Linked DNA regions of Homo sapiens: region 1 is linked to region 2. Evidence: fine-mapped expression QTL. A gene starts in region 2. The other region holds a variant in brackets. All regions are shown on one strand. Distances are between the middles of the regions.

Region 1 (15,193 bases), 22 kb before region 2:
TAGACCTCAGTCCCTCCCATGCCCCTCCCTGCCTTTGCCTGGGGTGAGACCATTTGTGAAAGACAGAGCCAAGACACAGGGAGTTTTTCAATTGATTCTAAAGTCCATGCTCTCATCAATCCACTGAATAATGATTTTGAAATTTGAGAAATTCTGCTTTATACTCATTTCAGAAAAAAAAAAAGTTATACACACACTCACACACACACAGAGAGAGAGAGAGGGAGAGAGAGAACCAGAGCACTTTCCTGCCATTTGAAGTAGAAAACTGCTGTAATCACCTCTGGTACCTTCTTCAAAGACCCAAAGGCTTGGGCCTTTGTTATGTTTCCATTCTTGATGGGTTTTCTCTTTCCCGACCAGCCTCTAATAGGGCCGTGCTGTGAGGCAGGGAGGACACCAGGCCGGGTCTCCTGGGAAACGGGAGCGACAGGGAGGCGAGGCCTGATTAAACGCACAGCCAGCATCATACTTAACGCTGAGGTCAAGGCAGCGCTTCCCAAATGGTGCCCCTTAGAACACGCCGAGAATACCAACGAGACGCTGGTATTATTTCAGTGATTCTAAAACACGGAGAATTGTAGATTTTGGCATAGTACCATTAGAATTTGTTGAAGCTTTTATTTCTTAGAAGTTTGTCAAATAATTGTGATCTTAACGATCAATAGTAACTTATATTCAATGAAATATGATAGATGTTTCTTTTTTTATTTTTATTTATTTATTTATTTTGTCTCACTCTGTCGCCCAGACTGGAGTGCAGTGGTGTGATCTCGGCTCACTGCAAGCTCCGCCTCCTGGGTTCAAGTGATTCTCCTGCCTCAGCCTCTGAGTAGCTGGGACTACAGGTGCCCGCCACCACGCCCGGCTAATTTTTTGTATTTTTAGTAGAGATGGGGTTTCACTGTGTTAGCCAGGATTGTCTCCATCTCCTGACCTCATGATCCGCCCTCCTCAGCCTCCCAAAGTGCTGGGATTACAGGTGTGAGCCACCGCGCCCATCCAGATGTTTCTTTTTTTTTAAAAAAAAGGCATGAATGCCTGAAAGGAGAGGAAATAATTATTTGTAGGCAATACTATTACACATTTTTAAATCCAGCCAAAAGGCTGTTAGAACTGATAGTACTAGCAGCTGGGAGTAAAGGTGTGGAAATCCTATATCCTGGCCTTAGCCACTAAGCTGTATCTGGTTCAAGTGGGACCTTGTCCACCTTATTCTCAGGTGTCACCTCACGTGACCAGGCACGATGCAGTCAGCAAACGTTAGGTGAACCAAAAAAGCAATACTATTCACCACAGCTGGAAAAAAAAATGCTTTAGAGTAAATTTTAACAAAAATACTCTAGAACATATTTGGAGAAGTCTACAGAAATTTACCATGAGGAAGTAAGAGATTTGAATATAGGAAGAGATTCCACATTCCTCAGTAGGAAGGCTTACTATTCTTTTCTTTTTTTTTTTTTGAGACAGGGTCTCATTAAGTTGCCCAGGCTGTCCTCGAACTAACTCCTGGACTCAAGGGATCCTCCTGCCTCAGCTTCCAGAGTAGCTATTTTCAAAAATTAATGCACTCAACATTTAAAACTAATTTAATGATTACAAGTTATTTTTAAAAAATATTGACTCTACCCAAATTATTCTGTGAATTCTGTGCTGTAATTAAGACTGTCCAGGCCGGGCGTGGTGGCTCACGCCTGTCATCCCAGCACTTTGGGAGGCCGAGGCGGACAGATCATGAGATCAGGAGATCGAGACCATCCTGGCCAACACGGTGAAACCCGGTTTCTACTAAAAATACAAAAAAAAAATCAGCCGGGCGTGGTGGCGGAGGCCTGTAGTCCCAGCTACTCGGGAGGCTGAGGCAGGAGAATGGCGTGAACCCGGGAGGCGGAGCTTGCAGTGAGCCGAGATCGCGCCACTGCACTCCAGCCTGGGCAACAGAGCGAGACTCCGTCTCAAAACAAAACAAAACAAAACAAAACAAAACAAAACAAAACCCTCCATATTATTTTATTTGTTTATGCCTTTGGAACTTCAGGAAGTGATTCTGTCGCGTGTAGTGTAGAGATAAGAAAGACAACACATGCTGAGAAAGGAATGGCAGGTGGCCCTCCCAGATGTGAGCACACTGTCCAGCTTTTGGGCAACGGTGGCCAGTGTGTGCGGGGCACGGTATGAGAGCCTCACCAGGATCCCATGCGATAATCATGACAGACCTCTGGGGAAGGCACAGCTCTTTTCTGTTTACAGAGGCGGAACCTGAGACAGGAACTCCAGGGGGTTATGTATGTTGCCCACGGGCACAGGTCTGGCAAGTGACAGAGGCCCCGAGTCCACCTCAAGCCTAACTGGTGGGCCATTGGTTTTAATGACTAGATTACATGACTACCCATTTTGGAAATAAAATAATTATATTTAAACAAACATGTACATGCACACATAAATATAAACACACATGCGTCATGCATTGTTGGTTGGTTAATGCTACAATGGAAGCAGTGTTGATCTCTCGGAGACAGGATAGGGCCGTTTTTACTTCTTGTCACTCCATGTTTCTACTTTTTATACAAAAAAATATATTTCTATACAAAATTTTGTATAAAGCTCTGTATACTTTTATACAAAGCATACAAAGTTATTTGTACACTTTTATACAAAGCATACGAAGTTATTTGTACACTTTTATACAAAGCATACGAAGTTATTTGTACACTTTTATACAAAGCATACGAAGTTATTTGTACACTTTTATACAAAGCATACGAAGTTATTTGTATACTTTTATACAAAGTTTTGTTTAAAATATTTTTTCCAGTACAGTGGCTTGCCATCTTTCTTTCTCTTTCTTCCCTAGGATCTGGCTGGATATACGTCTTTTAGAGCCTTAGACCTTGATGGTTTCTCTCTTTACCTTTGCACCAGGAGTTTAAGTGTTCATTTTCAGGCAGTCACGTGTGGGTGTGGCTCTTGATAGAATGAGAGTGTTTTTTTTGAGACGGAGTCTTGCTCTGTCACCCAGGTTAGAGTGCAGTGGCACAATCTCAGCCCACTGCAGCCTCCGCCTCCTGGGTTCAAGTGATTCTCCTGCCTCCCAAGTAGCTGGGATTACAGGTGCCCGCCACCACACCTGGCTAATTTTTGTATTTTTAGTAGAGACGGGGTTTTGCCATGTTGGCCAGGCTGGTCTCAAACTCCTGACCTCAGGTGATCTTCCCGCCTTGGTCTCCCAAAGTGCTAGGATTACAGGTGTGAGCCAGGGCTCCCGGCCGAGAGTGTTTTCTCCAGTAGTCCTTCAAGCCCAACCTGATGGTTTATACCACAACTATATACCATTAATCACCTTTCTTTTTCATTTAGCAACTTTTCAAACTTAAAATGATTTTAAAAGATACTTTGTATTATGATCTCAAGGGAAAAAAATCATTATTCTTTTCCATACAGAGAAAGTTATAAAAATAAACACAATGGGCTGGGCACGGTGGCTCACACCTGTAATCCCAGCACTTTGGGAGGCCGAGGCGGGCGGATCACGAGGTCAGGAGATCGAGACCATCCTGGCTAACACGGTGAAACCCCGTCTCTCCTAAAAATACAAAAAAGTAGCCGGGCATGGTGTCGGGCACCTGTAGTCCCAGCTACTCGGGAGGCTGAGGCAGGAGAATGGCGTGAACCCGGGAGGCAGAGCTTGCAGTGAGTGGAGATCGCGCCACTGCACTCCAGCCTGGGCGACAGAGCGAGACTCTGTCTCAAAATAAATAAATAAATAAACACAATGACCCTATGTTTCTTTGGTAAGCATAGCTTGTAGACTACTTTTAGGGCTCCTTTGTGTATGTGTGTGTGTGTGTAAGAAACTAGGTCTTTTGTCCTGATGAGTTTCCCATTGTCTGGGTTTTGCTGAGTGCAACCCCTGGTGTCATTTACCATCTTCCTCTGTCCCCTGTGTTTCCTGTACGCTGGAGTTTACAAGTGTTAAAAGCTCGATCTTATTCAGGTTTGATTTTTTTTGGCAAGACTACATAGTTGGTGGTGTGTCCTTCCATCAGGAGGCGGGTGATGTCTCACCATCTCTCTTTTTGTGCTAAGAGCCATCAGGGGTTTGAGTGTTGCCAGCCTTATCCATCCATGATAAAGCTTCGTCCAGCTTTTTACCTTCTGGTTTCAACAGCCATGAATGGTCCTTGATTAGAGCTATTAATAATTAGGAGTTCATAAATTGATTCTTCTATTATTTCTTCATTACTAGCTGTATCACTTCTTAGAGAAACTTGCCTTCATAAAGTATGTGGTTGTTCTGAAAGACAGATTGTTTAGAAAGGCGAGATAAATGCTTTATTCTTTCCCTTCACGATTCAGAATAATGTGTTGGTTCTCGAGTATCTTCCAGAGGTGACATTGTTTGGATCCTGATTTGAAGAAACCGGTTATAAAAAGACAGCCGTGAGATTATTGGAGATATGTAAACATGCTGAATATTTGATGATATAAAGGAACAACTATTCATTTTAGATATGATTATGGTATTATAGTAGGTTAAAATAGTTTTAGAGCTCTATGGTAAAGTGTTTACAGAAGAAATGATATAATGTCTGGGACTGGCTTCAAAATAATTCCGTGGGGACAGGAGGGAAGAGTGGAGAAGAAAAGGAAGATTCACCTGCAAATCAATGTTTTTAGTGTGGTCTCTCTGTCCCTCCTAAAATGCCAACGATGTGGCCTCCACGCTTGGGAACCAGCAAGGGGCTGCTGCCTCGTAACTGCTCAGGGCAGGGCACTGATGATGCCTGTTTCCCTTGCCCCAGCGCTATCATAGAGCACACCAACCGGGTCATCTTCCTGGAGGACGATGACATCGCCGCAGTGGCTGATGGGAAACTCTCCATTCACCGGGTCAAGCGCTCGGCCAGTGATGACCCATCTCGAGCCATCCAGACCTTGCAGATGGAACTGCAGCAAATCATGAAAGGCAGGTGTCCTCCAGAGTCCACGTGCGGCAGCCTCGGGAGCCAGCGCGCCTGGTGGAGCTCCTGACACTCTGCCTGGTCCTAGTAGAGGCCACAGCCCTCCTGCCCTCTGTGGCCACCAGGGCGGGGCTGCAGGTAGCCTGTGGCTTGCACAGGTGAGGGGATGTGGGGAGGCTGGCCTGGCACCTCCAAGCGGGGGCTCCTGTGTGCAGCCAGCCGCCAGGTCTTTCCTACTGGAACTGAGCCCAGTGTGTCAGCTGCCTTCCTTCACCGACTCCGCGGGACACATGCCCACCCTCAGGCATCATTTCTCCTCTGGGTGGAAGTCTGCAGGTCTGCAGTAAATGGGGGGTGGGGGTACACTTTCTCCCTACAAGGAGAGCCTCTCTGTCTGCACCCATTTCTGTCCCCTTACAACCTCTACCCCACAGGGCAGCCTGAGCAAACGTCTAAGAACATGAATCAGCCCCTGTGATCATCCCGCTGCTCAAGGCCCTCCAATGGTTTCCTACTGTTCTTAGAATAAAATCCAAACTCCCTGCCACAGCCCACAAACCCCACACCCCAGTGGGGCCAAAGCCTGGCCCCACCACACTCAACCCTCTGTCCCACTGTGCCCCGCCACAGCCCCTGCATTCGCTGTTCTTCTCATAGGACTGGTTCCTTTTCATTGCCTCCAGCTCCCTTGAAATGTCACCCCCTCAGAGACTCCTTCTCTGCTCCTGTGTCTGCCATGGTCCCTCCCCAGCCCCTCCCCTATGGTGGCCACCCCTCATTCCCCTCACTTGCTTCATTTGCTCGTCGCACAAGTGCCAGGTCATGGGAGACAGGCCGGGAGCATGGGCGATGTTGGTGTCATGAGTGTGCGTATCCTAGAGAACACGGCCTGCCCTGCCTGTGGGTACCTCCAGAGCATCAGGTGCAGGGGCTTGAACACCCTGCAGCCCCATTGTCCCATCAGCACCATCCAATCCCACTCAAATCAGAGCCCTGGAAATGCCTGTGTGGCTGGAAAGGTTTTTTTTTTTTTTTTTTTGAGACGGAGTCTTGCTCTGTCGCCCAGGCTGGAGTGCTGTGGCGCGATCTCGGCTCACTGCAAGCTCCGCCTCCCGGGTTCACGCCATTCTCCTGCCTCAGCCTCCCAAGTAGCTGGGACTACAGGCGCCCGCCACTACGCCCGGCTAATTTTTTGTATTTTTAGTAGAGACGGGGTTTCACTGTTTTAGCCGGGATGGTCTCGATCTCCTGACTTCGTGATCCGCCCGCCTCGGCCTCCCAAAGTGCTGGGATTACAGGCGTGAGCCAC[T/C]GCGCCCGGCCTGGAAAGGTTTTTATTACGGAAACCAGGAGGGTATTTATTAGAAGGAAAATTGCCTGTTTCTTTGGGCCTGCTTAGCTGTACTTTCCTAGCTGGATGGCTTTTTGGGAGTGAAGCACTTTACTTTCTTTTGGCCTTGCTAAGGGAGCATGGCCCAGAGGGATCAGCCAGGCCATTTGTTACTTGCATGCCTTGGGCAAATCCCTCCCTTTCTCAAGCTGCAGGGTCCAATATGTAAATTGGAGATAGTCCTGGTTCCTGACCTGCTTCCCTCTGATGGTAGTGAGTGTCAGGCAGGGTAATCCCTGGGGATGCCTTTGGGAATCTGCAGTAAGCTTTACAGGAGTTACTATCGCTGCTGCATAATGAAAAGCAGTGAAATATAATGAAATTAAAACTGACCAGACGTTTATTTGACCAGGTAACTTCAGTGCGTTTATGCAGAAGGAGATCTTCGAACAGCCAGAATCAGTTTTCAATACTATGAGAGGTCGGGTGAATTTTGAAACCAACACAGGTAATTCCTACACTCGGTGGGGAGCCTCCGCCCGAGCCTAGTCTCAGGGAATGCGGTGACTGTGTAGACTCAGCATTAACGCCTTGTCGTGTGCCCTGCAGTGCTCCTGGGTGGCTTGAAGGACCACTTGAAGGAGATTCGACGATGCCGACGGCTCATCGTGATTGGCTGTGGAACCAGCTACCACGCTGCCGTGGCTGTAAGTGTGACACATGTGCGTGGGGAAGTCGACGGCAGTCTAGGACCAGACACTGGCCTTCAGTTTTATCACTCATGTGGCCTTCTGAATTTGGCTAAGCCCTTGTACCCATTCCCATGAGCTAGCGTGAGAAATGACACGGAGCCCTTTTATCTTCGAGGTGGCCTGTGGGTGACCGAAGTCCCCTCGCCACCTGGACAGTGAGGTTCCGTGTCACAAACTGTCCCTAGAAGCCCAGCTGCCCCATGTCCCTGTCGTGCCTGTGACTGACTTTAGTCTCCATGCTTGCTTGTTGGCTTCAGACGCGGCAAGTTTTGGAGGAACTGACTGAGCTTCCTGTGATGGTTGAACTTGCTAGTGATTTTCTGGACAGGAACACACCTGTGTTCAGGGATGACGTTTGCTTTTTCATCAGCCAGTCAGGTAAGGGACACAGGCATTGTGGCCAGCCTTGCATCAGGTCAGCTCTGGGCTCTCTCCTCTTCTCCTTCATTCAGTTAAGTCCTCTGCATGGCTACCCTGTGCTGCGAACCCTCTCTTGCAGCGGTCATTTAACCCGTAGAGCCATGGATTACTGTCGCCATTGTACGGGGAGGGCAAGAGATGTCTAAGGCCATGCAGTCAGGGGGTGACAGCTGGGATTGGGCTGGAAATCCACGCACGTTAGTCTTTCCCCTGCCCCGTGGCTTCTCCCTCTTCTTGCCTATCCAAGACTTCAAGGACCACTTACCGAAGTGCTCATAAATGTTTGCTGATTTATGTTAATAGAAAAAGCATCTCCTTTAACATTTTGTTAGGTTGAGAGTCACGTGGAGGACCCAGTATGGGCTCTGTGCCCAAGTGTCCAAGCCGAGCTGCCTGTGGCATGCAGTGCCCATGCTGCCCAGCAGGGGGAGGTGTGGGGGAGACAGTGCTCCCTTTTAGGGCCAAGGAAGGTCTCCCAAGCTACATGCACCCCATCTGGTGCCATCCCAACACTGGGCTTGACATTTGCTCCAGCTGTCTCAGGGAGGTGATCCAGGGCCATAGGCTTGGAGTCTCCTTGAGCTCGTGGAAGATTTTTGAAATGTTTTAATTACGGATAATTCCAAGCCTTTATAAAAGTAGAATTTTCATATAATGAATATCCTAGCCTTATCCAGCCCATCTTGTGCCGGTCGGACACACTCATATTAACCCCTCGTCTCCATGGGGTTACTTTGAAGCCAATCCCGGGCATCATGATATTCATCCATATAAATACTTCAGGCTGCATGATTAAAATGACAAAAGAAAAACATATAACCGGCCGGGCGCGGTGGCTCACGCCTGTAATCCCAGCACTTTGGGAGGCTGAGGTGGGCGGATCACGAGGTCAGGAGATTGAGGCCATCCTGGCTCACACAGTGAAACCCCGTCTCTACTAAAAATATAAAACAATTAGCCGGGCGTGGTGGCGGGCGCCTGTAGTCCCGGCTACTCAGGAGGCTGAGGCAGGAGAATGGCGTGAACCCGGGAGGCGGAGCTTGCAGTGAGCTGAGATCGCGCCACTGCACTCCAGCCTGGGCGACAGAGCGAGACTCCGTCTCAAAAAAAAAAAAAAGAAAAAGAAAAACGTATGACCACGGTGTTACTACCACAACTAAAATACTGATTGTAATGCCCTATCATCTATTAGGACTTTTAGTACTCCTGCCATTTTCCATTTTAAATACCATTTCCATTTTGTTGACAAGTGAAGAAAAACCAGTACAGATACACCGACCATCCGGCCCACCACCTTATGACGCAGGAGCTGCTGCCGTGTTCACCTTTGGGTTTCTGATCCCACCAGAGCCTCAGACTATTTTATAAATTGGTGGGAGACATTAACAAAAGAACAGAGGTGGAGCTAATATGAAAATAATGCAGTGGCAGCTTCCGAATCTCTGTGTGTATAGAAGTCAGCCCTTTAATGAGATTGAAAAAACACTATCGAACCCTAGGGCGCGGGTGACAGAAGTTAGAACCCCCTTTCCCGCACCCTCACCGCAGTACCCCGTGACACTCCAGTGCCATAACCCAGGGCTCTGAAGAAAGAAAAGCAGAGGAGAATTGGGCCACCTAGCACCGGGCGGCACCTGCCTGCCCTGCAAAGCTGGGACAGACACAGCCAAGAGCAGTGGCCCTGCAAACAGAACAGCCTCCCGACTCATGAGGATTTCAACAGTTTTGATTTTATAGTCTGGCTTATGCTGAATTTAATTTGAGTGCTTTAGGACTCACAAACATAGGGAGCTTGTGCTGGTTTATGCATGAAGCTGTTTAGCTTTATTCTAAAAACAATTTGAGTCCACACTGAGAGGCTTGCAAGAAGTGTCCTTTCAAACAGGATCTAGCTGAGAAACACCACTTGGGGACATTCCTGCTTGTCAGATGTTAAATCTGTTCCATCTCAGCACGTTCTGAATAAGGCAGCTTATTCAGTTGCAGAGAGGGCGCTGGGAGCCAAGCCCACCTGTCACCAGCTGTATGGCTTTGATCAGAGCACCGGTTTCCTCCTGTCTCTGAGCCCTCATCCTCAAGAGGAAAATGGGGACGATGGTCCTCACGGGGTTGTCACGAGATTTAAATGAAAAGATGCTTGCCACAAATAGTAACACACCTTGAATGTAAGAATCAACCGAAAAGGCTGTTGAGCGAGCGTTTTCCTTTCTGAACACCCGCTGGCTGTGTCTCGGGCGCCGATTTCCCTGTAAGAGCCGGCGGTGAAGGAGGAAGGGGTTTGGGGTGGGGCCGAGGCTGGCGGAGCGCGGCACTGAGAGGGCCCCTGGGCGGCAGGCGAGACCGCGGACACCCTCCTGGCGCTGCGCTACTGTAAGGACCGCGGCGCTCTCACCGTGGGCGTCACCAACACCGTGGGCAGCTCCATCTCTCGCGAGACCGACTGCGGCGTCCACATCAACGCAGGGCCGGAGATCGGCGTGGCCAGCACCAAGGTAGGAGGAGCCACGGGCGCCCGTCCCAGGGAGAGCCTGGCGGAGGCAGGTGCACCAGAGGCCGCCCTCCTCCGGCCTGCTCTGCCCGCGCCACCGCCTTTCTTTCCCCTTCCCGCCTCACCCCTTCTCTCCGCTCCTTTCCTTTCCCCTCCCCTCTTGGATTCCCGTATCTTCATTTTTTTTATTTTTATTTTTATTTTATTTATTTATTTTTTTTGAGACGGAGTCTCACTCTGTCGCCCAGGCTGGAGTGCAGGGGCGCGATCTCGGCTCACTGCAAGCTCCGCCTCCCGGGTTCACGCCATTCTCCTGCCTCAGCCTCCCGAGTAGCTGGGACTACAGGCACCCGCCCCACACCCGGCTCATTTTTTGTATTTTTAGTAGAGACGGGGTTTCACCGTGTTAGCCGGGATGGTCTCGATCTCCTGACCTCGTGATCCGCCCGCCTCGGCCTCCCAAAGTGCTGGGATTACAGGCGTGAGCCCCCGTGCCCGGCCCCCATATCTTCATTTAGTCTCATTTTATTCCCATGCCACGTTCCTGTGTTTCGTCCATGTTGTCCTGTGGCTCTTTGAGCACCTTGGAGATGCTTATTTTAAAGTCCTTTAGGGCTGGCACGGGGCTCCCCCCTGGAATCCCAGCACTGTGGGAGGCTGAGGCGGGAGCATCCCTTGAACCCAGGAGTTCCAGACCGCCCCGGGCAACCCCGTCCCTTCAAAAATAAAACTTAGGCCAGGTGCGGAGACTCAGGCCTGTAATCCCAGCACTTTGGGAGGCCGAGGCAGGGGGATCACCTGAGGTCAGGGGTTTGAGACCATCCTGGCTAACACGGTGAAACCCCGTCTCTACTAAAAACACAAAAATTAGTCGGGTGTGGTGGCGGGTGCCTGTAATCCCAGCTACTCGGGAGGCTGAGGCAGGAGAATCGCTTGAACCTGGTAGGTGGAGGTTGCAGTGAGCCGAGATCGAGCCACTGCACTCCAGCCTGGGTGACACAGCAAGACTTTGTCTCAAAAACAAAATAGAAATAAATAAATAGATAAATAAAACCTAAAAATTAACTGGGCAGGGTGGTGGCACCTGTAGTCCCAGTTACTCGGGAGGCTGAGGTGGGAGAATCACTTGAGGAGGTTGAGGCTGCAGTGAGCCGTGATCTCGCCACTGCACTCAGGCGTGAGCAACAGAGTAGACCCTGTCTCAAAAATAAAAGTTGATTTAAAAAGTGAAAATAAGGTCCCTGCCACCTCCTTCTTTGTGCACAGGCTTATACCAGTCAGTTCATCTCTCTGGTGATGTTTGGTTTGATGATGTCTGAAGACCGAATTTCACTACAAAACAGGAGGCAAGAGATCATCCGTGGCTTGAGATCTTTACCTGGTATGTTCTAGAATTCAGCTTTCCATGTTTTCAGATCTAGTGGACTGTTGCTGGCCATTCTCTGTTGACTCTCACCTGTACAGGATGTTGTTCATTTCTTCTTCCTCCTAAAACTTCCTAGCTTCCCCAACTCCCTCCTGGAGGCCTTGCTGCCTCTGACCTCATCCTGCTCGGCCCCCACCTCCCCCTGCGCTGCCGCGCTGCCTCCCTGCCTCCCTGCCTCCCTGCCTCCCCGCCTCCCTGGTCCTCAGCCTCCCTGCCTCCCTGGTCCTCAGCCTCCCTGCCTCCCTGGTCCTCAGCCTCCCCGCCTCCCTGCCTCCCTGGTCCTCAGCCTCCCTGCCTCCCTGGTCCTCAGCCTCCCCGCCTCCCTGCCTCCCTGCCCCTCAGCCTCCCCACCTCCCCGCCTCCCTGCCTCCCTGCCCCTCAGCCTCCCCACCTCCCTGCCTCCCTGGTCCTCAGCCTCCCTGCCTCCCTGGTCCTCAGCAGTGCTCAGTGCTTTCTCACCGCAGGGCCTTCGCACTGGCTCTTTACTCTGCTGAACCATCTTCTTCCTGCTCTGCATACAGCCGACAGCTTCTCATCTCCCAAACCTCAGCTCAAATGTCACCTCCTGAGACCCTCCCTGGCCATGCTCACAGAGGCCCCGACGCCAGCACTCTGTGAAACATTAGCCTGTTTATTTTTTTCATAACACACCTCATGACCTGAAATTCCCTGTTCACCTGTTGACTGGCCTGTCTCCCCCAACTAACATGTCGGCTCCGTGAACACACAGCTCTGTCTGCCAGAGCTGCCACTGGACAGCTGGTGTCCAGCACAGGGCAGGCATACAGTAGGTGCTCAGTAAGTACTCGAGAAAGAGCAAATGGCCCCAGGTCCTTCCTATGCCAGGCGCTCCTTGGCAGCCCCACCACACTTTCCCCGTTTGCTGGGCAGCAGCAGTCGCAGCTGTCGTAGCTGGTGAGATACAATATCTGTTGCACTAAATCATGACCTCCTTGGGGACCGTGGCCTCCCCTTTCTTCATTCATCCACCACATATATTAAGAACCAGTGCCGTGCCCTGTCCCATGTGCTATCCCTGGCCTGCCAAGATAAGCAGCAGCTCACCTCCTTCAGTCACTCACATGCCAGAGTAGGAGAGAGACTTCTGTGCAGGCCTGAGAGGCGGAGATGAATCGAGCCTCGCCCCAGGCTGGCATGGAACGCTCACTGCGGACAGGACATCATGGGGCTTCTGGGGAGTGCCCTCCCAGAGACAGAGTGGACGCTGGAGCTTCCCTGGGAGCCAGGGCCAAACCCCAGAGCAGGCAGTTGGGGAAGGGCCATCATAGAGAATGGTCAATTCCAGGCCCTCGGGGCCTGACACTGGCCGAGACAGCTTGCTGAAAGTTTATTTCTGAGAAAAGCATTCTTCCTTTAAGCCAGGTCATAACCATGCAAAACAGGACCCAATTCTGACGTCTAAGTCAGTGGTTCTCCAGATGTGGTCCACAGGTCCTGGGTGTCTGCAAAGCCCTTTGAACAAAATTGTTCACATAGTAATACATTCTTTATACTAAAAATTTTTTTTTTTTTTTTTTTTTTTTTTTTTTTTGCCTGTGTCCACATTTGCAAAGGCAGTGGTGGCTGTGCCCGGCACCCAGCACACTAGAAGGCCTACTGGTCATTGTGTCCTTCACCAGCACACACCCAGTTTCCCTTAAGAATGGCCTTGATGGCCGGGCGCGGTGGCTCACGCCTGTAATCCCAGCACTTTGGGAGGCTGAAGTGGGCGGATCACCTGCGGTCAGGAGTTCGAGACCATCCTGGTCAACATGGTGAAACCCCATCTCTACTAAAAACACAAAAAGCAGCTGGATGTGGTGGCAGGTGCCTGTAATCCCAGCTACTCGGGAGGCTGAGGCAGGAAAATCACTTGAACCCAGGAGGCAGAGGTTGCAGTGAGCCAAGATTCTGCCACTGCACTCCAGCCTGGGCAACAGAGTGAGACTCCATCTCAAAAAACAAAAAAGAATGGCCTTGATGGTGAGGCGCAGTGGCTCACGCCTGTAATCTCAGTACTTTGGGAGGCCGAGGTGGGCAGATCGCCTGAGGTCAGGAGTTCGAGACCAGCCTGGCCAACATGGTGAAACCCCATCTCTACTAAAAATACAAAAATTAGCTGGGCGTGCTAGTGGGTGCCTGTAATCCCAGCTACTTGGGAGGCTGAGGCAGGAGAATTGCTTGAACCCAGGAGGCGGAGATTGCAGTGAGCCGAGATTGTGCCATTGTACTCCAGCCTGGGCGACAAGAGCGAGACTTCATCTCAAAAAGAAAAGGCTGGGCACGGTGGCTCATGCCTGTCATCCTAGCACTTTGGGAGGTCGAGGCAGGCAGATCATGAGGTCAGGAGATCGAGACCATCCTGGCTAACATGGTGAAACCCCGTCTCTACTAAAAATACAAAAAATTAGCCGGGCGTGGTGGTGGGCACCTGTAGTCCCAGCTACTCGGGGGGCTGAGGCAGAAGAATGGCGTGAACCTGGGAGGCAGAGTTTGCAGTGAGCCGAGATCGCACCACTGCACTCCAGCCTGGGTGACAGAGTGATACTCCATCTCAAAAAAAAAAAAGGAATGGCCTTGATGAGGTGGTAAAAATTATTAGTCTGTAAATTGCAACTCTTTGTAATATCCTTTATGATGAAATGGGGAGTACACGTAGCGCCTTTCTACTGGGGCCAGGCGTGGTGGCTCATGCCTGTAATCCCAGCACTTTGGGAGGCCAAGGCGAGCGGATCACCTGAGGTCAGGAGTTCGAGACCAGCCTGACCAACGCAGTGAAACCCCATCTCTACTAAAAATAGCTGGGTGTGGTGGTGTGCGCCTTTAATCCCAGCTACTTGGGAGGCTGAGTCAGGAGAATCACTTGAACCTGGGAAGCAGAGGTTGCAATGAGCTGAGATCACGCCGTTGCACTCCAGTCTGGGCAACAAGAGCAAAACTCCGTCTGGAAAAAGAGAAAAAGCCTTTCTGCTCTACACTGAAGTGTGATGCTTGTCTCAAGAGAAGCAGCCATCCCATTGAGTAGCAAGCTGATTTTGGTGTTTGTTAGACATTTTCTCAAAATGAAAAATCAGCTGACGCATCAGTAGAAGCAACCCATGGTATTTGTTGCCAATGATAAACTTTAAGCTCCCAGGCAAAACTTTTGAGTGTTAGAAAACACCTCTGTTACCATGAGCTTGACCAGTTCCTAACATTTAAAGACTTCTCTAGGGCCGGGCACGGTGGCTGATGCCTGTAATCCCAGCACTTTGGGAGGCCGAGGTGGGTGGATCATGAGGTCAGGAGTTCAAGACCAGCCTATCCAAGATGGTGAAACCCCATCTCTACTAAAAATATTTAAAAAATTTAGCTGGGTGCAGTGGCAGGCACCTGTAATCCCAGCTACTCAGGAGGCTGAGGCAGGAGAATCACTTGAACCCGGGTGGCCGAGGTTACAGTGAGCCGAGATCGTGCCACTGCACCCCAGGTTGGGTGACAGAGTGAGACTCTGTCTCAAAAAAAAAAAAAAGTCTTCTCTGATGAGATCAAGGTGACTTCAACAAGGTGATTTTTAAAGAACATTTTATAATAAAAGTGTCCATTTTAAGAAGATTTACATACCTTTGTGGCCAGTTCACGATGTCACAGAGTTATGCACTTGTAAATGATCCATTTAAAAGCACAAGACAGAAAAATAAATTTTAACCTAACAAAGTAGAAAAAGTTTATTGATAGGATTTCAGATTCTATATTGGCACCTACCCTTTCAAGAACCTACTGTTTCTCAAGTTTGATGTACTGTGGTGTCAAAGAACAATATTCACAATTATTTGTAAA
Region 2 (15,193 bases):
GTGATCCACCTGCCTCAGCCTCCCAAAGTGCTGGGATTACAGGTGTGAGCCACCGCACCCGGCCCAGTAGAAGCGTACTTATGAACCATTCCTACCTTTCCTTCCCACTCCACCCTAAACAAATAAGTCCCATGGAATTCATATATATTCTTGCAAGAAAAGTTAATTTTTAACAGTACACACCAAGTTACCTGTGTTTAAAAGCATGAACCTTATTCTTTAAATCATGTTAACAGATCATGACACACATCAGGTGCACAGTAAATGTTTATTGAGGGACTAAACCTTATACGGTTAAATGAGGCTTCTGGACTAAGGAATCTGCCTCCAAGACGCAGGTCTCTAGGTTGGTGACCATGGTGAACATCTGTCTCTTGTTTTTAAGTACTCTGAAAATTGTCTGTGAGAGGTAGCATGTTGCTGAGATCTTTGGGGTCCTGAACAGTCACTTTCTTTCATTTTAGGTTGACTTCCCCAGAAATCTGGCCAAGTCTGTAACTGTGGAATGAGGCTGAGACCGTGACAAGACCATCACCACCTTTCATCTGATTCCAGACCTGTCCCAACAGCAGGGATGCTACATGGGAAGAGAAGTGGACATCCCACATGTTCTGCGTGCTCCTGTAGAGCTTGACAGCTTCCACGTGCCTTCTACCCAAGTGCTTTTGCTTACAGCAGATACTGTTTCTCTGTGTCCTGAAGTCGCCAGAGGAGAAGGGAATCATTGTTTACACATGGGGATCAGAGCAGACTTCTCCACTACTGTGCAATAGAGATACAGCTCTCTTCAGAGTAACTGTGAACCTTTTATAACCAACACTAGAGTTAGTTTTAAAAGACAAGATATTTATAATGACGACTGTATAGCTTTTAAGTTATTTTTCTAGTATGTGGCTTTCTGTAGCCGTGGTAACGGCCAAACTGTTCATCCTAGCTACCCATGCTCTGTGTCCAGGCTTGCTCCTGGCAGGTGGCATTCATCTCAGATGTGAGCACAAGGCATTGGCCCTCTGGACTCCTTTCTCCTTTTCTTTCCTCTCTAGGCTGCTCCTGAATCCTGTTCTCTGACATCCGTGGAGCCCCTCCTGCATCCACCTATGCCTCCTATAAGTCCAGTTGAAATCTCAGCCTCCTTCAACATTTTCTTCTCGTGTGTGGCCCACATCCCTCCACTTCTCCAACTTCTGTTTAATCTGATCACGGCTCTTTTTAAGCCCTGGCAGCATTTTGGTCCCTGCTCCTTGCCCATAGTAAAACAGCTTGAAATATCCCATGCAAGAGAGTAGTTTCAAGTGGGCAACTCTGCTCTCTATTTAAAAGCGTGCACAATCAAAAGTACTATGCAATTTTAGGACAATAAAGAACATACAGTTTTTTTGTGTGTGTTTGCATTTTGTTAACCTCATTCTTTTTGTGTACTTTGAATTTTGAGGACTGTGCAGGAGCTCGGCAGTGTTTGGAGGGGCAGCCCTGTTTGTTAGTAACATTGGCCTCGTCCACACCTGAGACCTATGGGTTTCTAGTAGGAAAAGGAGGGCTGTTGTCCAGGATACAACAAATCCAAGAGATTTGGGACTCAGCAGAGGGGCCACTGAACCTGGAAGGGGTTGGGCAGAACCTGTAGACAGCATAGAGGGGTGAAACTCTCAAATTTGTATTTTTTTCCCAATAAGGCTATTATAGTCCCTGGTTTCATTAATACAATCAGATGGAAAGATTGAAAGCCAGAGAGTTCTGAAGTTTTGTGAAGTCAGAACTTAGGCTTCCTACGTAAGTGCTGTCACACACAACCTGAATGATGTCTTCATGACAACGGGTGTGTGTAGCCCTAGTATCTCATAAACCCTGTCCAGGATTACCTATGGGCTACTCAGCAAATTTCCATCCTGTCCTATGCCCTCACCTGTATCATGGGCTGGAAACCTGGGAGCTACATTTCCAGTTATCCACCATCCTGTCCTATGCCCTCACCTGTATCACAGGGGCTGGAAACCTGGGAGCTACATTTCCAGTTATCCACCATCCTGTCCTATGCCCTCACCTGTATCACAGGGGCTGGAAACCTGGGAGCTACATTTCCAGTTATCCACCATTCTGTCCTATGCCCTCACCTGTATCACAGGGGCTGGAAAGCTGGGAGCTACATTTCTAGGTTATCCACCAGTGAGAGGCATTCATGGGAGACTTGGAAGATAGTTGAGTGGCAGAAATCATATTTTGTATTTATCTCTGGCAGAAGCAGATAGAAATGTTGCTTCAGCAAACGGGGTTCTGCTGTGGCCCTCAGGGGCTCCCCAAAACGCACCCACCTCAGCATGCCAGGCAGTGGTGACCATGAACAGAGGTCGCCTGTGGCTCCTCTAAAATCCCAACTCTGGAGAGCTGGCAGCAACCAGGTGCCACAGGGGCTTTTCCTGACTTCTGTCCTCCAGGCCCTGGGTCAGTCCCAGGGAAATGGCTAGAATAGTTTCTGTCCTACTAATCAATCCATGACCAATACAACTTCCAAGATTAGGAGACTACAAACTAGCCAGAACATTTTTCTCTGGACAAGACCTAGAAAGTGTATTTCATCCTTATGCCCAAGAGGCGACGGCCATTCTGACTTTTGTGCCAATTGTTCCCTTGCTTTTCTTTATAGTTTCACCTGTGTATCTATCCCCCAAATACACTGCCTAGTTCGAAAGTGGAGGGTGAGTGCATGCTGGCGGTGCAAGGAGAGGGCGGCACTGCCTCCACTAGACGGAGGTTCCAGGAGGTGAGCAGATCAGTCTCCAGGTCGTGGTCTGACCCCTGCTTCTCTGGGAACTGACAAGGCCCCTCCTGGGGAAGTCATGAGGAAGGTCTCGAGGAAGTCTTGGGCTCAGCACAGTCAGGCACCTGGTAGGGCCAAGGTGGGGACCACGCGCTGGACCTGCAGTGGAAATAGTCAGAGGGAGGGGGCTGACCTGTACGTCCTGCTTCTAAGCTCGCCACGGCCTGCCTCCAGCTCTCGGTGGGGGGAAAGCTGGAAACTTCTGTGAATGTTGTGCGTCCTCAGCAGAGGAGGGGAGCGCCCCTCGTCGGCACATGGCCAAGCCAAGTACCGCCAAGAACCTAGGCCAGGCTCTCCTGGGCATTTTGTCCCCGGGCTACAGATGGCCTGATGGAGGTGGGGTCTTGGTGAAGACAGTTCACCCCGTGGGTCACGCTGCTCAGTATGGCTCAGTCGCTCTCCACGTCTGGTGCAGAGCCATCACCTCAGGGTCACTTCTCGCCACCCTCCATGGGCCTCCCAGGCCATGTCTTCTGTGTTGGGTTCCTGTTTTTGTTTTTTTGTTTGTTTGCTTGTTTTTTGACAGAGTTTTGCTCTGTTGCTAGGCTGGAGTGCAGTGGCGTGATCTCAGCTGACTGCTACCTCTGCCTCCCGAGTTCAAGCAATTCTCCTGCCTCAGCCACCCAAGTAGCTGGGACTCTAGGCGTGCGCCACCACACCCAGCTAATTTTTGTATTTTTAGTAGAGACAAGGTTTCACCATGTTGGCCAGGATGGTCTCGATCTCTTGACCTCGTGATCCACCTGCCTCGGCCTCCCAAAGCGCTGGGATTACAGGCGTGAGCTGCCATACCGGCCTGGGCTCCTGTTTTCTGTATCTGTGTCTTCCTTCTTCTGAGTTTCCTTTTTTGTTCTGGTGAAGCCCATTCTTGAGAAAAGGTGCTTGAGAGGTGTCTTAAGTCAGTTCAGCCTGCTGTAACAGCCCTGGTGCCTTATAAAAATCCCACATTTCTTTCTCACAGTTCTCAACAGTGGGAAGTCCAAGATCAAGGCACCGGCAGATGTGGAGTCTTGGTGAGGGCCCATTTCCTGGTTTGTACAGAGCAGCCTTCTTGCTGTGTCCTCACATGGCAGAAGGGACAAGGGAGTTCTCTGGAGCCTCTTTGATAAGTGTACTAATCCCATTCATAAGGGCTCCACCCTCACACTCATCACCTCCCAAAGGCCTCACCTCCTAATAACATCACATGTGGCAGGGGTTAGGATTGCAACATATGAATTTGGGGAAACACAAATATTCAGGCCACAACAGAAGGCAAGTTTTTTGAGAATCTGCAGGTGTGGAAATGATTTTTTTATTTATACTTGATAGAGGGTTTAGCTAAACACACAATTCTAGGTCAGAAAAAGGTGTTCCTGCAGAATTTTAAAGGTAGTGCTTCATCGTCTTGTTCCCAGTGCTGCTATTGAGTCCAAAGTCTGATGTCTTTGTAGGTGACCTTTTGGTCTCTTTTTTGTTTCCTGTGTTCTGAAATACCACAAGTTGCCTAGAGCACATTTCATTTAGGGTTGATTGCATCTGGTAACTTTTGCCTTTCAGACTAGGAAATTTTCTTGAATTATTTTGTTGTGGATTTCTCTGTTTCTCTGTCTCTGGAGTGTCTATTATTCCCAGGGTGAAGCTGCTGGACTGGCCTCTAATTTCTTATCTTTTTTATCATTCATTTGTTGTCTTTTTGCCCTACTGAGAGATTTCAATTTTATCTCCCAACCTGCTACTAAGATTTTTCATTTCTGCCAACATGATTTAATTTTTCGAGGGTTTTTTTTTGCTCTGACTATATATATATATATATATATTTTTTTTTTTTTTTTTTTGAGATAGAGTCTCACTTCGTCACCAGGCTGGAATGCAGTGGCGTGATCTCGGCTCACTGCAAGCTCCACCTCCCGGGTTCACACCATTCTCCTGCCTCAGCCTCCTGAGTAGCTGGGACTATAGGTGCCCGCCACCACACCCGGCTAATTTTTTTTGGTATTTTTAGTAGAGATGGGGTTTCACCGTGTTAGCCAGGATGGCCTCGATCTCCTGACCTCGTGATCCGCCCACCTCGCCCTCCGAAAGTGCTGGGATTACAGGTGCGAGCCACTGTGCCCGGCCACAAACTTTTCTATTCTTCCCCATTTATTATTTCTATTAGAATGAACCATAGATATTTATTTTATATTTTGAGTCATGCCCAATACTATGTTAGTTTGTTGTTCCAATGGTTCCAGCAACAGCCACTGGGGGCTCTTTCAGTTGGCTCTTGTGTCTCTTTGACATAGCCCCATCTGTGTGTGTGTGTGTGTGTGTGTGTGTGGTAAGTACTTCCGTGTGTGTGTGTGGGGGGGTACTTCCGTGTGTGTACTTCCTTACGTGTGTGTTGTACTTCCTTGTGTGTGTGTGTGTGTGTGTGTGTGGTAAGTACTTCCGTGTGTGTGTGGGGGGGGGGGTAAGTACTTCCGTGTGTGTACTTTCTTACGTGTGTGTTGTACTTCCTTGTGTGTGTGTGTGTGTGTGTGTGTGTGTTGTAAGTACTTCCTTACCTGCACAACAATATTCTCCAGGCTCGTCTTGTCCATCCCCTGTCCCAGCCCTAGAATCAACCATTTCTCCAGGGATCCCTGGTTCCTTTTATGGCGAATGACATTAGAGAACAAGATCTGGGCTCTGGGTGTGTCAGCCACTGCTGAGATGTCATTGCTTCTAGGCCATCTCAGCTGACAGAGCAAGGCCATGTTGCATACACCTGTGCTGCATAATTTTTAAATGGCTGGTTCTTGTTTGAAGGATGCAATATTTTTTCATTCTCTCTGAAGCTAGCAGTAGTTTTATTTTTATTTTTTGAATTTTCCTTCTCCACAGAGTCTGTTTCTTTCAAGATGCAGTTTTTTGTCTTACTTTTCTTAGCCATATGACATGGAGCTGTCTGTTCAGATTCAAGGGGGGCTGACTGGAAGGTCTAAGGCATGGTAGGGCTGGTTGATGCAGGATTCACTGCTGGGAAATCTGGTGGGGGTGGGGGTGTCATAATGTTCATACCTCAGGTCTTCCCTTCAGGGCTGGTCAGACTTCTGGAGAACAGCTTGCTGGCTCCCTGCCTGAGGACAGTCCCAGCTGCTGGTGCTCTGGGGGATTCCCGGAGGAGGAGGGCTAAGGGCCACTGGGTTCAGCATTCAGTTATACAGCCCCCAAATAACCCTGTTTCCATACAGTGCCACACCCTCAGCTGCGCCCCAGCTCAGATGCCCTCATTCTAATCATCACCATGGAAGAAACTTCCAGACTTCTGCCTTTCCCAATTCTGCCCTTCCCTGCCATGTCCTCACATGAGCCTGTCTGCCCAGCATGGCTGACTAGTTCCAGAATGGAAGCCCTGTCTGGGGGACCATCAGAGTCCATTGTTGTGGGTTTTCAAACTCCATTTGGGCCTGCAGTGGCCTCCATGGCCCTAGAGTTTCCAGACCAGCTCTGCCCCTACCTCCCCTGGGTATGATGTTACAGGCACCTCCCAGTAAACGTCCCCATTGGTTTAAGTGCAGTTTAGTTTTCTACAACACACAGCTGGGACAGCCCCGACTTACACCCTCTAGCACATCTCTGGGTCCTTGTAGGGGAGAAGGGAAGATGTGGGTTAGTGCAATGGGGGGAGGGCAGGCAAAGTGTTGAGGGGACAGAGGCAGTCAGCATAAGGACCTACACCATCCCTGCTGCATGGGCCGCACCCAGCTCTTCCTGCTTCTGTCCTTCTCCATGCCACTTCCTACAGAACCAAGGCAGACAGAAGTGAATCCCTTGCCCAGAGGAGCACAGCTGACAAGAGTCGGATTGGAATCCAGGCCAGTCAAGGGTGGGGGATATCAGGATCACAGAAACCCGTTGGCACTGTGGCTGCATACACAGCTGGCCTCCGGACAGGTCCCCAATGCCCCAGGCACCCCTAGCTCCTCCACCCCGCTGTGCTCTTGTCTTAGTCTGTTTCTTATTCTGTTGCTTATAACAGAATACCTGAAACTGGGTAATTTACTTTAAAAAAGAATTTATTTGTTACAGCCCTGGGGGCTGAGAAGTCCAAGGTTGAGGGGCTGCACCTGGTGAGGGCCTTCTTGCTGCTGGGGACTCTGCAGAGTCCTGAGGGTGGCGCAGGTGTCACATGGCCAGGGGGCGGAGCATATTCACAGGCCAGCTCAGGTCTTCCTTCCTCTTCTAATGAAGTCACCAGTCCCACTCCGGTGATAACCCTTTAATCCATGAATCCATCGACAGGTTAATCCCAACCACGCTTAGAGGCCCCACCTCTCAGTACTGCCACATTGGAGATTAAGTTTGAACATGAGTTTCATTGAGGATAAACATCCAAAACAGCTCATCCCAAATCTAAATGTTTCTTAAATCAACTAATCAATTAAAAAAAGAAAACCTCTCTGGGCTGAACAAGGCGTATCAGTGAGCTAAAGCCAGCCTACATGCCTGGCAGTGCCAATCTACCTCAAGGTCCTCAGAACTCTCCAGTCCCCTCACCTTTCCCTAAGACCAGGTGACTTGTGGCTCCCTGAACACAGCAAGCAGGTCCTCACATCTGAGCATGTGGGCCTGAGCGCCCTTTCTGCCTAAGTCACAGGCCCAACACATCCTGCTCGGCAGCCTCAGCAACAACTTCCTCCTGCCCAGAAGGCCTTCCTCAATTGCTTCTCCCCACCATAGGCCGGATCAGGTGAGACGTGCTCACGTGTCACACCTGGTTCACGTATGTCGTGGCAGGATCTTTTCACTTGGAGGGTTCAACCAGGATTCTTGGTGCTGTTCCAAGGCCCCCCTCCCCACCCTGTCACCTCAGCTTTGTGTCCATAAATGTTCACTGTATTTCATAAACCAGAAAAAAAGCAGTGTCTCTGCAATAAAAAGAACTCTTACAGAAAACTTAGTGTGAGATATGTATAGCTGTGTACATATGTACACTGATTTTTGGTTACTCACTTGACATGATGTGAGTGCTATGAAGTTAGGCCTGGAGTGCTGGGAACTGGTGTCCCCTCTGTTTTTTTGTTTTTATTTTTTTGAGATGCAGTTTTTGCTCTGTTGCCCAGGCTGGAGTGCAGTGGAGCAATCTCGGCTCACTGCAACCTCTGCCTCGTGGATTCAAGTTATTCTCCTGCCTTGGTTTCCTGAATAGCTGGAATTACAAGCACCCATCACCACGCCCAGCTAATGTTTGTATTTCTAATAGAGATGACGTTTCACCATGTTGGCCAGGCTGGTCTCGAACTCCTGGCCTCAGGTGATCCACTCACCTCGGCGTCCCAAAGTACTGGGATTACAGGTGTGAGCCACCGCACCGCCTTCCTAATGAGAAGCACCCATCAGTGCTCCTTGGTGGAACCTCAGATCTGACAGCTAGGCTTTTACTCTTTTCCCATAATCCTCGATCCTGACAATTTCTGGTTTCCTGTTCTCTCTCATGCACTTGAGGCAGGTGGCAGGTGAGTCTGAGGTAGCGACAGGTGTGGGCCCTCCTCAATGCAGGCCACACTGTGACGTAGAATTTCAAGCAGCGATGAGCCATGCTCAAATTTAGAAAACTCCCTCTGGTGGCCAAGGGGGACACCATGCTGGATCCGTTCCTCTACCCCACCCCTCCTCTGAGGCTCTGGTGCCTCCAAGCGGCCTGGCCCAGACCTCAGTGCCCTTGGAACCTGGGTCACAGGCTAGCTGCCCTCCCCAAATTCTGCAACCACCCTTCACGCCACCCAGCCCCTTACCCTCCCCATCTGCAGAGTCCTGTTCCTTCTCCCCACTCTGGCCCTGGCCACTCTGTGGATCCTGGTATTGTGTTACTGCTGTTCTACACCACACTCACCATTTGTCAACCATTGTTCCCACTCTTCTAGTCCCCAAAGGCCGGCTCTCCACGGTTTTCCCCATGTGCCCAGCCTCAGTGCCTCTCTTCCTGCTTCACTTTTCAACGTAGATCTGGCAACATCCCAAGCCCCGGCCTCTCCCATCCTGTACGACCCCCAGGCCGCTGGTACCTGATCCAGCCTCAAAAGCAGCTCAGAGTCAACGGGTCCCAGTCCCTAGGGGGCTCTGAGCAAGAGACTCCTCGCCCCGCCCCCCACTCCTCTCAGAGGCTTGACTGAGCACCTCCCTTTTTTTTTTTTTTTTTTTTTTTTTTTTTTTTTTTTTTTTTGAGAGAGTCTCACTCTGTCACCCAGGCTGGAGTGCAATGGCGCAATCCCGGCTCACTGCAACCTCCGCCTCCCAGGTTTAAGTGATTCTCCTGCCTCAGCCTCCCGAGTAGCTGGGATTACAGGCGCCCGCCACCACGCCCAGCTCATTGCTTCGTATTTTTAATAGAGACGGGGTTTCACCAGGTTAGCCAGGCTGGTCTCGAACTCCTCACCTCAGGTAGTCCACCCGCCACGACCTCCCAAAGTTCTAGGATTACAGGCGTGAGCCACCGCGCCCTGCCGCACCTCCTAATTTTTAGATGTTGTCAACTAAGTGATCCCGCCACCAAGCGCAGTCTCCTCCTGCGTCACCGACCCACCGGGTCACCTGTCTACACACCGCCATCTCTTCGCACCCCCTCCCCCTCTTCGACCCGGCTTCTGGCCTCACCCACACCCCCATAGACCCGTTCCTCCGGCGCCGCAGCGAGCAACCGAGTGCGAGGCCCGCCCCGCCTACCGGGCCCTAGCACGCCGGGCTCCCGGACGCCAGGCCGGCCTCCCCCCGCGATCGCCCCGGGCTCTCCCCGAAACGGGCGGGCTCCCGTGCCGCTCCAGTCGCCTCACCGCCACAAGCCTGCACCTGCAGCCCGAGGCCCGGCTCCCCGCGGACCCCGCGGTGTGAGCCCCGCGCGCCTCCAGCCCGGTTCCCGGTCCTCCGGGCCACCCTCTCCACCGAGCTGCGCCCCCCTCGCAGGGAGAGCGGGCTCAGCCGGTGGGCCGCGCAATGCCTGCGTCTCCAGCTCACCGCGTGCACTGCGCGCACCCGAGCGCCATGGCCACTCGGCCCGCGCCACTGAAAGGCCCGGGGGCGAAGAACCCGCGGAACCCCGGCCCAGGACCTCGGGCGCCCGACCCGGCCCCCGACCCCGCCCGCGCCACCCTCCATCGGCCCGCCCCCCAGGCGCCATTGGCCGCGCCTGCTCCGCTCTCCGCGCGCTGATTGGTCGGCGCGAGGGTCTGTCAGACCGGGCGCCGCGGCGGCGGCAGCGGCGGAGAAGGGAGCGGGACCGGAAGGGTCGCAGCGCCCCGGCGCCCCTCACACCCACTGCGGCGGCGGCGGCGGCGGCGGCGGCGGGGCGGAGCGGAGCGGGGCGGGCCGGCGGCGGAGCCGGGGCCGCGGAGCCAGGAGTGACTAGCACGCAGCGCCGCCAGTCCGCCCGCCCGCCCTCTCCCCGTGGCGCGGCGGCGGGGAGGCGAGGTGAGCCCGGCGGGCGGGCTAGGCCTGGCGGCGGCTGCTCGGGCCGGGCCCGCGGGGAGGGGCGGTGAGGGAACCGCGCGGCCGGGGGCTTCGGGGCGGGCCGGGGGCTGCGGGGCCCTGGCAGCCGCAGCCGTCGCCCCTGTGCTGGGGGATGCCGCAGGCGCCCCCTTCCGCCCGGCTGTCAGCAGCCCCGGGCTGCGGGCCTGCTCACCGGCCTGGCCCGGCCGACCTGCCCGTGGGGTCTGCGGGCGCCATCCCTCCCGGAGGTGGGGCAGACAGCTGCACTCCTGCGCCGGGTGCCCAGGGGCCCGGGGTCGCGTCCCCGCGACCTTGGCCAAGGCACTGACCCTCGCTCTGCCGCGGTTTTGCCTTCGGGAAGGTGGGGAAATGTCTCTTCTGGACAGGGTTGTTGTCAGGCTGTGTGAATGTATGCAGACGCCTGGGCAGGACCCCGGTGTGCATCTGTGGAAGACTGGGCAGGGTGCTGGCCCGTGCTGGTGTGAGTGGTGTAGGAACCCCCTCCCCACCCGCCCAGCCTCCCGCCTCCCCGCGCACTCCTCTCTTGCCTTGTCATTGCACACTCGGTGTCCAGCAGTGCCAGAGGGGACCCAGCCCGAATCCCTTACCACCGCGCCCCTCCCCCAGAAGACTGCTGCCCCGTCCCACTCATCTCGCCCGCCTTGAACATGCCAGCCCGCATTTGCCCCAGGACCTTTGCATTTGCTGTTTCCCCGTCTTTGGAGTTGTCTCCGTGATCTTGGCACAAGTAGCTCTTTCTGCTCCTTCCTCTGGTCAGATGTCTCGTTTTGGGTGAGGCCCTCCTCGACCACCCTCTTTCTTCCCTTAGTCATGCTATTTCATTATTTAAAAAATTTCCTTCCTAGCTCTCATCTGGTTTGAAACTATTCTATTTATTTGCCTGCTTATTTTCTGTCTCCCCGACTAGGATGTAACTTTGTGAAAACAGGTAGCTGTCTGATTTGTCCACTGCTTTATCCCCAGTGCTTAGAAAGCACACAGGAAGTATTCAGTAGTATCAGCTCAATGAATGAATGAATGATCAAAGAAATGGCCCAGCCTGCCTGTTGTCTCTGCTTTATCTGTTCATTTAGTGACTTCTGATTAGCGTGTGAAACTTGTAAGCAGATGGAAGCTTGTTCTATTTTGTGAAACATTTTGGTGTCCTTGACCCCTTTAATTGCTAACTGTTGGAACAAGCTGTGATATAAAATCTCACATTTTTATAATAGTTTAGCTGTAGCTTTCTTCCACACATACAAGAGACATTTACTGAATTCTGCATTATCTAGGTCATGCTTTCTGCTAGACCCTACGGACACAAGGCAGATAGCAACGGGGTCCCTTTCCCGAGAGAGCCCAGGAGCCCAGTAGAGAAGGCAGGCATGCAGACACTTAGTTCCAGGACTGTACAACCCTTGCTATAGGGGAGGGGCTATGCCATGGAAATGTGGAGGAGGTGACAGGTGGTGCTGGGGGGCCTTGAGGGTGATAAGAAATTTGCTAGGCAGGGAGAGGCACAGAGGTGTGAAGGAGCAGGGCCAAGGAAGGACCGTAGGCCACTGTGGAGTTGAGAATCAGTCTGGAGGGCCAGGTGTAAGGACACAGAGTCGTGGGGACCCTAAAGAACAGGAACCTTACCCAGCAGTTTTCTAGAAGAAGGTGGAATTTGGCTGGGTGCCATGGCTCACGCCAGTAATTTCAAGACACTTTGGGAGGCTGATGTGGGAGGATCACTTCAGGCCAGGAGTTCAAGACCAGCCTGGGCAACGTAGCGAGATCTGTCTCTACAAAAAATTTTAAGAAATTAGCTAGGTGTGGTGGCATCCACCTGTAGTCCTAGCTGCTTGGGAGGCTGAGGTGGAAGGATCCCATGAGCCCAGGATTTGGAGCCTGCAGTGAGCTATGATCACACCACTGTGCTCCAGCCTGGGTGACAGAGCAAGACCCTGTCTCTAAAAAGGAAGGCAGCACTCCACATTTGTTCTGATTTTTAAATGTTGGCAATAGCTAATTAAATTTTTTTTTAATGCTGTGAGCCAAGCCAAATACAGATTCATTCAGCTTGGTTGCAGGATCGTCATCCTCCAGGACTGGCTGTGTGGGAGGGAGGAGCTGTGAGGAGAGCAGGAAAGGTAGCCTAAGGCCAGGGGAGCCAGGCCCTGTTTGCCCAGGTGCCAGCCCAGATACTCATTTGATTGTAACTGGAGCCCTGTGGAAACGGAAGCTCAGGAGTCTAAGTAGTCTGTTTCTTAGCAAGCAGCTGGTGAGTGGAGTTCGAACCCAGATCACTTCCCAGATAAGGATTCTTTCCTGGGTCCCTCAGCTCTGAGTATTCTCTTTTGGCTTTTAACTTGTTCTGGAAGAATGACCACCAATCTATTTAATGTTTTCCTCCATTTAACTTTTTTTTTTCTTCAAAAGGATCCTGCAGAGTTAAAAACAATACTATTTTTGCATAGACTTCTCTTTTGACAGCTTTGATTTTCCTGGCAATTTAATTTTCAGGGTGCCAGGACTTTAATTTGTTCACAGATTAAAATCTGTTTATTTGGTCCCGTAAATAAACAACAGAGGGGATACTTGAATGTGTCTAAGATAAAATATTCTTAATTTTCTGGATAAAGAAAAGGACCAGACAAACCAGTTAATAGCGAGTAAACCAGTTGTTTTCATGAGGCATAAGATAAAACAGAGACCAGATTTTTTTTCTTCTTGAGACTATTGATTTGCCAATAGGGCAACTATTTTTGGTCTACATACATACAGTAGTTACACCTCACACTTGGTTAGGAAGGTGCCATTTTTACATAATTTTCCTTCAGAATAATTAATTCCTGATACTTTGTACTTGATTGTATGAACCAGTTTCAACATCATTCTTTTTATTTTAACTTTTATTATGGGAACTTTCAAACATATACAAAATAAACAGAATAGTGTCCTGCTTTAACAGTTATTAACTCCTGACCAATCTTGTTTCATCTCTAATGGTATCCACTTGCACCCTTACCACCCATAATTATTTTCAAGCAAATCCTAAATATCATGTCATTTCATTCATTATTTTTTGGGATACTAATTACACAGTGGGTGCCCAGTAAATGTTTGGTAAAGACAAAGCTAAATGGGAGAATAAATGTGGTAGGGTAGCTCGGAGCAGTGGGTAAGATCAGGACTTTGAGTCAGACTCCCAGTGGGTCTGCTGCTTATCTGGGTGATGTGCAGAAGCGATTGCACTCATCTGTAAAACATACGGGCACAACCTCAGGGTGCTCAGGAGGTGTACAGTAGTTATACTTCACACTTCGGTAGGTCTCTAAAGGTACTGACTCTTTTAAAGTTGAAAAAGTAATAATTGCTTAATATCATCAAATAACTAGTCAATATTCAAATTTCCAGCTGCCCCATGAATTTTAGGTTTCCTTAATAGTTTGAAAGTAGAGCAAGAGAAGGCCATACGTTGTTGATTGGATGATACGTCTTTTAAGTTTCTCTTAATCCATAGATCCCCCTCCTATTTCTTTGTTTTCTTGGTAGTTTATTTGTTGAAGCAATCGAGTTGTTCCTTAGCATTTCCATAGTTGGTATTTGATTGATTGCATCTCTGCAGTGTAATTGAATGTGTTTCTCTGTAATCTCTGTAAGTTAGTAATTGGATCTAGACGAGGCTTCGTCAGATTTAGGGTGCATTCCTGCATCAAGATGCCTTCCTAAGTGGGCTGTGCACTTCTTATCTAGAGGTACCCTGAGGCTCTCTGCTCGTCCGTGTTGCAGATGAGTGCAATCGCTTGCTGCACATCACCCAGATAAATAGCAGACCCACTGGGAGTCTGAAGTCAAAGTCCCGATCTTAACCACTGCTCCCAGCTGCCCTACCGCATTTTTTCTCCCATTTAGCTTTGTCTTTAACAAACATTTTTTGGGCACCCACTGTGTAATCAGTAGAGGATTGAGAAATAAATCAGACACATTTTCTGCCCTTACAGAGTAGAAGTGTAAGTAGACTCGGAATGCAATCTAAAGCGAATACTGGGAGGGTGGCAAAAATGGGGGCATGCCCAGCATGGTTTGAAGGGAAAGGCTGGAGGAGGAAACATGTAAGAGAAGCAAGTGCTTGAACTAGATTTTTGAAGGAGGGTGAATGTTGACCAGCAGGTCAAAAAGGGGAGGGAAGTCATTTCAAGCAGATGGAACAGCTTAGGCAGAGGCCTGAAGGTGTGCAGTAGCTGGGTGTGTCCGCTGATCCCAGGTGGTTTGATGTTGCCTAAGATTGGGCCAGAGGACTGCCATCTCCTGTGCTGTGCTAGGGAACTGAATCTTATTCTCCAGGCAGTCAGTCACTGTTGAAGGAGTTCAAATGGGAGAATGGTGTGATCACTGCACACTTTCAACAAATCTCTCTTTTTTCTTTCCATATTTTGAAATAATTATAGATTCACAGGAAGTTGCACAAATGGCACAGAGAGGTCCCAGTACCCTTCCCCCAGCTTTCTCCCACGGTTACATATTTACACAACTGTAGTAAAATGTCTAAACCAGGACATTGGGCATCGGAGCAAGGTGTATAGAGTTCATTGTCATTTTTTATCGTGTGAAAATTCCTATAACCACTACCACAATCAAGATTCAAAACTATGTCATCATCCCAGATATCTCCTTGTCCCACCCCCTTACAGCCACAGCAGCCCCTTTTCCCCACCATTCATAACTGCTGGCAAGTACTAATCTAGTCTGCATCTCTATACTTTTGTCTTTTCAGGAATGTTATATGCATGGAGTTATACAGGATGTGACTTTTTGAGATTGGCTTTTTTCGTTGACTATCCTGCCCCTGAGATCCACCCAAGTTGTGGTATGTTTCAGCAGTTGCTGAGTGGTATTCCATGGTATGGGTATACAGCAGTTAGTTTAACCATTTACCCATTGAAGGACAGGTTTGGGTTGTTT

Evidence for each region. PIP is the estimated chance that this variant, and not a neighbour inherited with it, causes the effect.
Region 1: its variant is fine-mapped to the expression of MAPK9 in whole blood (INTERVAL, PIP 0.91).

What each region holds. Positions count from the first base shown.
Region 1 is chr5:180,308,566-180,323,758 of GRCh38, reverse strand. GFPT2 (glutamine-fructose-6-phosphate transaminase 2) reads left to right here. Exons shown (of 19, transcript NM_005110.4): 10 at 4,803-4,966; 11 at 6,701-6,796; 12 at 6,898-6,995; 13 at 7,298-7,418; 14 at 9,795-9,952; 15 at 11,215-11,329. Among named protein-coding and RNA genes, the nearest start is that of MAPK9, 24 kb to the right of the region's middle. RefSeq lists enhancers at 1-630, 9,716-10,010. The variant T/C (reference allele first, on the strand shown) is at 6,271.
Region 2 is chr5:180,286,880-180,302,072 of GRCh38, reverse strand. MAPK9 (mitogen-activated protein kinase 9) reads left to right here and starts at 9,990. Exons shown (of 12, transcript NM_002752.5): 1 at 9,990-10,225. LOC124901151 (a long non-coding RNA gene) reads right to left here and starts at 9,841. Exons shown (of 2, transcript XR_007059085.1): 1 at 9,773-9,841; 2 at 6,820-7,102. GFPT2 (glutamine-fructose-6-phosphate transaminase 2) reads left to right here. Exons shown (of 19, transcript NM_005110.4): 19 at 465-1,375. The coding sequence ends at 509. RefSeq lists enhancers at 2,528-3,028, 8,870-9,512 and silencers at 9,435-9,774, 9,785-10,154, 10,285-10,474.